3 separate regions of the Homo sapiens genome follow, and all the other regions are reported to be linked to region 1. Evidence: microRNA targets listed by miRTarBase, many of them from high-throughput screens and not tested one by one. Region 1 holds a microRNA gene; each other region holds the end of a gene's coding sequence.
The links. The annotated mature microRNA hsa-miR-4678 reads AAGGUAUUGUUCAGACUUAUGA and lies in region 1 at 1,265-1,286, opposite strand. An mRNA with a match to its seed (bases 2 to 7 or 8) in the 3' UTR can be bound and repressed. Matches are read on the target gene's strand: a 7mer-m8 pairs with bases 2 to 8, a 7mer-A1 pairs with bases 2 to 7 and ends in A, and an 8mer does both.

Region 2: the mRNA of NRARP is a reported target of hsa-miR-4678. Seed matches in the 3' UTR shown: 8mer at 1,625-1,632 and 7mer-m8 at 2,154-2,160.
Region 3: miRTarBase lists SULT1B1 as a target of hsa-miR-4678. Seed matches in the 3' UTR shown: 7mer-A1 at 1,910-1,916.

The regions. Positions count from the first base shown.
Region 1 is chr10:87,501,919-87,505,175 of GRCh38, reverse strand. MIR4678 (microRNA 4678) reads right to left here and starts at 1,295; the gene lies at 1,222-1,295. MINPP1 (multiple inositol-polyphosphate phosphatase 1) reads right to left here and starts at 283. Exons shown (of 5, transcript NM_004897.5): 1 at 1-283. The coding sequence starts at 260. LOC112268064 (a long non-coding RNA gene) reads left to right here and starts at 342. Exons shown (of 2, transcript XR_002957094.2): 1 at 342-841. RefSeq lists enhancers at 4-63, 224-313.
Region 2 is chr9:137,298,733-137,301,989 of GRCh38, reverse strand. It overlaps NRARP (NOTCH regulated ankyrin repeat protein), which reads left to right. Exons shown (of 1, transcript NM_001004354.3): 1 at 1-2,359. The coding sequence starts at 62. The coding sequence ends at 406. Among named protein-coding and RNA genes, the nearest start is that of NRARP, 1.9 kb to the left of the region's middle. RefSeq lists enhancers at 1-420, 2,220-3,113 and silencers at 482-561, 632-691, 812-861.
Region 3 is chr4:69,724,595-69,727,851 of GRCh38, forward strand. SULT1B1 (sulfotransferase family 1B member 1) reads right to left here. Exons shown (of 8, transcript NM_014465.4): 8 at 1-2,606. The coding sequence ends at 2,494. Among named protein-coding and RNA genes, the nearest start is that of SULT1B1, 34 kb to the right of the region's middle.

The DNA of each region.
Region 1 (3,257 bases):
ATGAGGGCGACCAGCTGCACCGGGGTGCAGGTCCCCTCCAGCAGCTCAGGGTCCCGCCACGGAGCCTCGGGGCCCGACAATAGCACGGGGTTGACATCCTCGTAGCGAGTCTTGGTGCCGAAATAGGGGCTGAGCGACGAGGCCACCGGGTCCCTCGGCTCTAGAAGAGAGCAGCGCGCAAGCGACGAGAGCAGCGCCGCAGCCAGGGCCGCGGCAGGCGCTACGGAGGTCCGGAGGAGGCAGCCGGGCGCGCGTAGCATCGTCGGGACGGTCAGTGGAGTGCGCCGAGCCAGCTGCAGATGCCCAGCTTCCGGCTCCGGAGGGCAGGGGGCGGGTCTGGAGGGCGCTTCCGGCCGGCGGCCCTCGGGATGCGCTTCGCTGTTCTCTAGGAGGTACCAACCTCTGGCGGTGGGTCTTGCGTCCCGGCGGAAAGCTCCGAGGAGTCCTGTAGACTTGTGGCTCGGGTGGAGCCGGCGGAAAACCCCGAGAAGCTTGAGACAGCCGTGGCTGAGGTGGAGCCGGCGTCGCTGCCCTGGAGCGTGGGCGAGTTTCCTCTTAGCCGGAGCTTCAGGGATTGACTCAAAGACTCCTCCGCTTTTTTAGTTGTTTTGGGTGTGAATACAGCCCGGACTAAACCTTAGTCGCCTAGACTAAACCTTAGCCTCCCAGGCTGCCAAAACAGCACAGCTTTTACAGATGACTCTTACATCACCATCCCTACTCTGTGATACTGTGTTTTTCAAAGTTTAGTGCCTGAACCATCAGCATGAAATCTGCCTGAGACGGTTGTTGAAAATTCACATCGCTGGGCCTTGCGGCAGGATGCCTCTTGAAGCCCAAGGTTTTTGTTTCGTTTTTTTCCATTTGAGTTTGAAAATAAACAGGATACAGTAAAGCAGAGAACTTGGAAAGGGGCTTACATTCTGCAGGAATTTAAGTCCTGAATCTTTGGTATAATCTTGACCTGGACTACCAGAGCTAACGCCGACATCAGTGAGACAGCACCCTAAAAGTTCTGTGCTTGTTGTTCCCGAAGGCTTAGCGAGTAGAGACATAGCAATCTAGAGAATTTGGGTGCATTGAGTCATGGCCCAACAGATTTACTCTATTATTAAGTATGAGCTAATCTGCTTTGCGAAGCAAACATGCTCTGTATTTACCACCACTCCAGATCCATACGTTCCTCCCATGTACTTACTTACATACTCAAATCAAAAGCTGGGTTTTTTAATAGGTTATTGCTCAGAATCTTTGACCCCAAAAATCATAAGTCTGAACAATACCTTGTTTTTTCCCACTTGAACTCCAGTTTATTTGCCAGCTGGGGAAATAATAAGTATTACAGAAGTCGTACGGTGATCCAGATTTAAGGAAATTGGGACCACGTTTTCATTAAGTTAGCTTTTGCTTCAAAGACACTATTACATTGCTCTTTATAAGCCCATCACCATCTTTACTCCTTTTCTCTTTAAGTGTCTCCTTGGTTTAGAGAGGTGTTCCTCTAAGTTTAGGCGTGCCTCTAAATGTTAACCAAGAAGAAACGGGGCCAGCCTATGAATGCTGAAAATTTGGAGACGTTCTGTGCAGGAAACCATCTTTAGGGCAACAGATGTTCTTTTCGATATGCTATTTTGTAGCATGTCAATGCCTGAATATTCATGGTCAGTGATATTTTTGTAGAACTTTGCTCAAATTAGCATTTAGTAAATATCCGCTCCTTCTTAAAATAGACATTCTAACCCGTATGCTCTATAGGCTGAGTCGCCTGATAATATTTCTAAGTGCATTCAGCGAGCATTTGTTCCAGGTTCATCTCACTGTATTTTGCCTAATACATATGCTTACTAATAACTTCTCACACCCAATCTTTTGAGTCCTAGGGGTTACCAAGTGTTCCCAAAGTCATTATTCACTTCTTCCTTATGAAGCAATCTTTAGAGACTCCACTTACAAAATGTATGGCACAGTACACATTTTTATACATGAAATTTGCCCCTAGTTTGATTTTATTTTCCTTATCTAATTCCTCATCAATTAATTTTATCCTGTTTTATACACTTAGGTATATCAGCTCCTAATTATTTTGATGTTATGCCAAGATAACAATGATAAAGTAAAAGTAAGCAATGCCTCCATGTTTTTGGCTAGGAAAAAGCCAAATATAAAGAAGACGAAGAGTGCTTAAGCTTTGGACCCAGACTCTAATTAGCTCTGCTGCTTATTAATTGAGTGACCCAAGTTCTCTGGGCCTTAGTTTTTTTTTTTTATCTGAAAATTGGTAATATTAGAACCTATATCATGGGATTATCATGACAGAGATGATGTATTTAAAATCCATATGATAGGCCGCTATAAATGATATTTTTATCATTACTAATGTTCAGTGTGATTATTCCTGTGCTAAGATGCCTAGCTTTCTAGCAATTACATGGATTACACTTACTCCCACTGAACATTAAAGTGAATGACTTTCACAGGCAACACATGCATCAAAGATCATTTCATAACTTTTCTAATAATAAAAATCCACTCATTTCACTTAAAATGGATATCTTGTTCTTAGAGCACTAAGCAGCCTTTGAAAAAATTTAAAAAGGTCACAGGCCGTGCTCCTCATTTCATGCCAGACCATGTCTGAATTATCTGGGCACTCTGTAAATTGGATGCCCTTTGACATAGGTGCCCACTTGGTCCAATCATGTAGTACAGAGAAGTTTGCATAGTGCGAAACATGGCTATTCCTTTGCAGAGATCATGGGAACATCACCTCCCCTCATAAGAAATTGTGGGTATGGGAGCAATATATTTGGCAAATCTAACACAATACAAGAGGCAGAAAGGAAAATTAATGGTTCAAGGTCCTTGCAGAGATGGGAGAGGACAGAACCAAAAACACAGGTAGAGAATTTGATTTGGGCCAGAAGGAGATGAGACCTTATCTTCTAAGAGAATGTTAGAAGGATGGGTGAACATGGGGATAAATTTGTAGATCTGGCAGGAGAGAGTTCATAGAATTCAAGTCTGATGGCCTCAGTTTCCACAGTAACATAGGAGACAAGTTTGAAAGATGGGGGAATAGGAATTAAGTCTTGAAATGTGAAAATGGTTTGGATTTGCAACTGAGAGAAATGGGAAAGTAATGGGAAAGGATTGACAACTAAGAGGAATGGGAGAAACAAGTAGAAGTTTGTATGGTCAGCTCTGGAGATCCAACTGAGAATGAATTGCTAGTGGTTCTGCAATTTTATTTAGAAGCA
Region 2 (3,257 bases), not on the chromosome of region 1:
CGCCGCAGCCGCCGCCCGCGCTGAGCCCCGGCCCGGCCCGCGGCCCGCGCCCGGCGGCAGCATGAGCCAGGCCGAGCTGTCCACCTGCTCCGCGCCGCAGACGCAGCGCATCTTCCAGGAGGCTGTGCGCAAGGGCAACACGCAGGAGCTGCAGTCGCTGCTGCAGAACATGACCAACTGCGAGTTCAACGTGAACTCGTTCGGGCCCGAGGGCCAGACGGCGCTGCACCAGTCGGTCATCGACGGCAACCTGGAGCTCGTGAAGCTGCTGGTCAAGTTCGGCGCCGACATCCGCCTGGCCAACCGCGACGGCTGGAGCGCGCTGCACATCGCCGCGTTCGGTGGCCACCAGGACATCGTGCTCTATCTCATCACCAAGGCGAAGTACGCGGCCAGCGGCCGGTGATGCCCGCCGGGACCCCGGACCCCGGCCCTGCGCCCGCGTCGTCTCTGCTGTACCTTCCCGCCAACTACCTCGGTGCGCGCCCGGCTCGCAGGCCCCGCCAGAAGGCCCGTGGCCACGGCGAATACGGCGCGTGCGTCCCGGCCCCAGGGTCCGGCAGCCCCGCCGGCCGAGCGCCTCCCTGCGGCCTAGCCGGGCCCGGCCGGGCCGGAGCAGCTTCCCACGGCCCCCACCCGCTCGCCTGCCCGCCGCCTCGCGGGTGGGGGCGGGGCGCGGGCTCCAGCCCCTTTTGAAATTTGAGTCTCGCAACCAGCAAGTTCGGAATCCCGAGATACCGGATCCTCTGCGCAAAATGTTTTCTCCCGAAGGTGAAAGGCGGGCGGCGGGAGCCGAAGGCGGACTCGGAGCGCTCCGCCGCCGCCTTCAGGACCCGCCCGCAGGCCCGGGACGCGCCGATGCCGGCTGCAGCCGAGGAGCAGCCCCGAGGTCCGAGGTCCGCGCCGCTGGCGCGCGGCCGAGGAGACGCTCGGCTGTTCGCTGTTGCTGGTGTTCTAAACTATTTATCTTGTGTGTGTACATTTGTGGGTGGAGTTTGTGCGCCTGGTTTTTTTGTTTGGAAAACACTGCGTGGTCAATGTGGTTATGGGGGGGAGTGATGCATTTTTTTCTAGTCTTAAAACTAAAAACTTGAGTCTACCATTTCTTGGTTGCACTGAAAATACCGCCCAGCCTGATGGTGTTCCCGTGCTGTCCCTCCCCCTTCCCTTCTCCCCGCGTCTACCTCCCCACCCCGTTCTGTTCCCCCTCCCTCCTTCTCCCTCTCCCTCAAATCCGTGAGTTTTGGAAGCCCCAGGGCCTCTCTCCCCCGCCCCTCCTGGATGAGGCCACCATCCCCCAAACCGGCTTGTTTTGCAGTTTCCCCAGGATCCTGGAAGCTCGCTGGCGCTCGAGGGTGGCGGGGACACGGGGGGGTGGGTGAAGGTTCGTTACCTTTTCTAGTGCGTTCTATCATAGTTAACGGTTGCACACTTTTTTAAAAAAAGTAAATGGATTTGCCACAATTAAATGTCATAACATTTATGACAGAATATAAAATATTAACATATTTTAAGCCAAGTTTTAGGTGTATTTTTTGAATCTTGGTTATAAACCCAATTTTAAAGGGCGATGTATCCAGCGTTGTGAAGGCAACAGAGTGTACCCATATTTATATTTTTATAAAATACCTATAAGACTGTGAATCTCTTGTGCTAATGGCTGAGTTAATTGAAGGATCGTTTTGCCCCTTTTTAGCCTCCCAGAGCTTCGAGGACTCAATTCGAACCCGAAATCCTGCCGTGGGGGAGGGGTTGCGTCGAGACCTGGGCCCGGGGAGGTTCTCCTGCGTCACTTTCTGTCCTGAAAGGCGCCCTTCCTGGTTTCTGTGGCTCCAATTTTCTATGCAGCCCCACACCCCTTGTTGTTTTGATCCTGAGAAATAAAAGGGAGGCTGAATTATTCAAATTTAAATGAGGTTTCCCCTTCATGGAAGTGCTGCTGACCCTTCGTGCAGAAATGGGGAGCACTTGAGGACACAGGTGGGTGGAGGCCCTTTGTGCGTGGCTGGTCGTATTCGGGCAGCCCTCCGTCGCTTTTTATAAAACTTTGTGTGAGAAGAATATATTGATAATGTCAGTGAAACAAGCAGACATTGAAATGGAGGCACAGATTACTCCACAAGGAGTTCTTCTGTATATTTTTTCTAGATGCAAATACCTTTTTAATTATGTTAATTAATGTTAAGACTTTCTAGGCTTATATCGAAGCTGTGTGTGGGTCACGGGGTGATCACTGCTAACTGGATAAAGTTTGTGCAGCACATTCCTGAGTGTACGATATTGACCTGTAGCCCAGCGTGAAAAATTTATAAATAAATTTTTCATTGATCTTTTTATATTAAAAAAAAGTTTCTTGGTCCTTCTTGGCTTTGGCACAAGTTGCAGAACACCCTCTCTGGGGACGAGGGTCAGGCTGTGACACGGTTTGTGGGTGCTGGGTGCACAATGCTTGGCTTGTATTTGTCTGAAGACAGAGCCTGGTAAACTCGCTCCCAGCCCCACGCAACGGCCAAGCCCAACCCGGCTGCACACAGGACTCACGAGGACCCAGCACCTCCAGCGTGCCCAGAGCTGGTGTCACAGCCTCTGCTCTGTTCCCCAGCAAAGCAGCTGAGACCTCCGCTGGAGAGGAGAGTTCGGCCTGAAGCCCTGCCCACTCTGACCCGCTAGGGGGTCATGCTGGAGGCTGCCTGCTGCACAGAAAGTGTATCTTGTAAATTGGGGGGAAATCCCATAGCTGCTCACTCCTGGCAGGTAGAAAGTCCCCTGGAGGCACCCGGGAGCTTTGGAGGCCTGCACAGGCCTGGAGTCAAAACACCCCAAAGAGCACAGACCCTGAGTTAGACGAGCATCGGGGCCGGGCACTCCCATTCGCAAGAAAGGAGAGCAGAGCAGGATGGCTGTTGCTGGCACCTGACAGAAAGGAGCAGAGACTCTTGGTCCACTCCTGAGATGCCCTTGGGGCCCTGGGGGCCCTGTACCGGGCTGCAAGGGAGCACACCCGCCCCCAGCAAGAGCAGCCAGCAGAGAGAACTTGGAGAAGGGCAAAGACCGGGAGTTACAAGGTAACAACTTTTCAAACCCCTCTGCCGAATGTAAGGGGAATCTGCTTCCCTAAACCGTGTCCGCAGAAGGGCTGCCCTTCCCACAAACTTTCCCCACGCCTCCGCCTTCCTACTCTGCACTGCCGCCCTGTTTACCCTTGGTTTTCCAGGCGCGTTTTCCGTCGGTTACGCATTTCCTATCCTGCAGAATCG
Region 3 (3,257 bases), not on the chromosome of region 1:
AGCATCATACTACCTGACTTCAAACTATACTACAAGGCTACAGTAACCAAAACAGCATGGTACTGGACCAAAACAGAGATATAGACCAATGGAACAGAACAGAGCCCTCAGAAATAATACTACACATCTACAATTATCTGATCTTTGACAAACCTGACGAAAACAAGCAATGGGGAAAGGATTCCCTATTTAATAAATGGTGCTGGGAAAACTGGCTAGCCATATGTAGAAAGCAGAACCTGGATCCCTTCCTTACACCTTATACAAAAATTAATTCAAGATGGATTAAAGACTTAAATGTAAGACCTAAAACCATAAAAACCCTAGAAGAAAACCTAGGCAATATCATTCAGGACATAGGCATGGGCAAGGACTTCATGTCTAAAACACCAAAAGCAATGGCAACAAAAGCCAAAATTGACAAATGGGATCTAATTAAACTAAAGAGCTTCTGCACAGCAAAAGAAACTACCATCAGCGTGAACAGGCAACCTACAGAATGGGAGAAAATTTTTGCAATCTACTCATCTGACAAAGGGCTAATATCCAGAATCTACAAAGAACTCAAACAAATTTACAAGAAAAAAAAAACAACCCCATCAACAAGTGTGCAAAGAATATGAACAGATACTTCTCAAAAGAAGACATTTATGCAGCCAACAGACACATGAAAAAATGCTCATCATCACTGGCCATCAGGGAAATGCAAATCAAAACCACAATGAGATACCATCTCACACCAGTTAGAATGGCAATCATTAAAAAGTCAGGAAACAACAGGTGCTGGAAAGGATGTGGAGAAATAGGAACACTTTTACACTTTTGGTGGGAGTGTAAACTAGTTCAACCATTGTGGAAGACAGTGTGGCAATTCCTCAGAGATCTAGAACTAGAAATACCATTTGACCCAGCCATCCCATTACTGGGTATATACCCAAAGGATTATAAATCATGCTGCTATAAAGACACATGCACACGTATATTTATTGCGGCACTATTCACAATAGCAAAGACTTGGAACCAACCCAAATGTCCATCAATGATAGACTGGATTAAGAAAATGTGGCACATATACACCATAGAATACTGTGCAGCCATAAAAAATGATGAGTTCATGTCCTTTGTAGGGACATGGATAAAGCTGGAAACCATACTTTTCAGCAAACTATTGCAAGAACAAAAAAACCAAACACCTCATGTTCTTAGTCATTGGTGGGAATTGAACGATGAGAACACTTGGACACAGGAAAGGTAACATCACACACTGGGGCCTGTTGTGGGGTGGAGGGAGGGGGGAAGGATAGCATTAGGAGGTATACCTAATGTAAATGACGAGTTAATGGATGCAGCACACCAACATGGCACATGTATGCATATATAACAAACCTGCACATTGTGCACATGTAACCTGGAACTTAAAGTATAATAATAAAATGTACATATATATATATATATATATATATATATATATATATATATATATATATAAATGTTCCAAGAAAACATAGATCAGAGACCACACAAATAGATATAAGCATGTAATAATAAGTAGAAGGAACATTGGGTCAAGAGGGCAGAGTGGAGATTCAGCCTAGAGAGTCTTCCTTGGGCACCAGATTGGGAAATATTTTGCAGAGGTTATGATCATGTCTAGGATATTAAAGGTGCTATTAAGGTATCCAAATCTATCCAAATATAAGATTAAGTAACTGAAGTTCCCAAATGGTGACCAGAACACAGCAGTAGGTGATTTCTCTGAAGTTCAAACGGGTCTGTTGGGAAAAAGAGGACTCCCCATAAGAAGTAGGTCACAGCCCTCAGGGCTGCTTTTCAGAACAGAGCTCCAGTTCCCAGGTAACCAATCCTACAGAGACTATTGTAGGCGTTTGCCTTTCGGAGACTTAGACATTAGGTATGATATAGAAAAAAGATTTCCAAAATCTGAACTACATGATCGGGGACATGAACTTTGTTATCCAAATAGAGGCACTGCAGGAAGATGAGCTATGACTCAGAGAACAACTTGAAACTCGGTAGACAGCAGTGGAACACAGTGTCCTGGGTCAAATTTTCGGCAAAGGGAAATTGGGGCAGAGTTAGGAAATATAGTCTCATTATGAAAACAGCATTTCTTGGACCATGGTACTAGGGAGGGGAACTTAATTCTAAATCATAATATATGGGAGATTAAGTAAAATAAATCCCTTCTTTCTTATCAGTACTAGTGTAGAAAAAGGCAGGAAGAGCCTGTGGTTACATTGTTCCTTTGTTACAAAAAGTTAACAATGAACTTTAGCCTTAGAGAATTTGGAAACTCAGAATCAAAGGAACAAAACTGGGATCTGATTAATAACATTGAAAAGAATCAACATATTAAAAGCATATTATTCTCCTTTATAAATTCATTTGATTGCCCAAATCAATTCATAACTGCCCTCGTTTCAATCAACTACAGACAATCTCTTATTTCTTCAGATGTGTGATTTAGACACTTTAAATCTCTGTGCGGAATTGAAGTGCAGTTTTGGACATTTCTGTCTCATAAATAGCATCAAATTTCTCATTTTGGGCCACGGTGAAGTAATTCTTCCAGTCACCAGCCGTCCCTAAAGGTAAATAAAAAAACATAGGAAAGAATAAAATATTTCCATAAGAAGAAATCAGTATATACCAAAGGAAAAGATTAGAAGGCCTAAAGAAAGACCTTCCTTTTATTTGAATGAATTCAAACAGTCTTTAAATTGTATTAACCTTTAAATTTTTCAGGCTTTTAAAATTTGAATAATTTTTTACATCTGGAAAGGTGGTTTATAATTAAATAGAGTCTGACATTTGAAGAGGCATTCTGAGAAAGACTAATTTTCTTGTTTAAATTCCTGGGCTTTACAATAGTTTCCCAAGAGTGATAATTTTACTGTTTCTAATGGTCGTAGGTCATGAGATTATCACTGAGCACTTGGATCAATAGTCAGGCATATTTTATTTCACAAAGTAATTTTTGGAAACTAGACAAAAAATTAGTCATCAGCACAGCAAAACTGTGAAATAAAAAGTTGATAAGTATCATTTCCTAGAATTTATAAACAAGGATGCTATGATATGGAGATGACAGTTGTTTTTCCTAAATTCACTAGGCTTGTTCTTTATTTGTAATTTAGGTGGGAATAATAACATTAATATCAAATATATAACATCCTGGAACCATGTTTTTTAAAGTAAATCTTTGAGGATAAAAATTTAAATTTAGTCTCTCATAC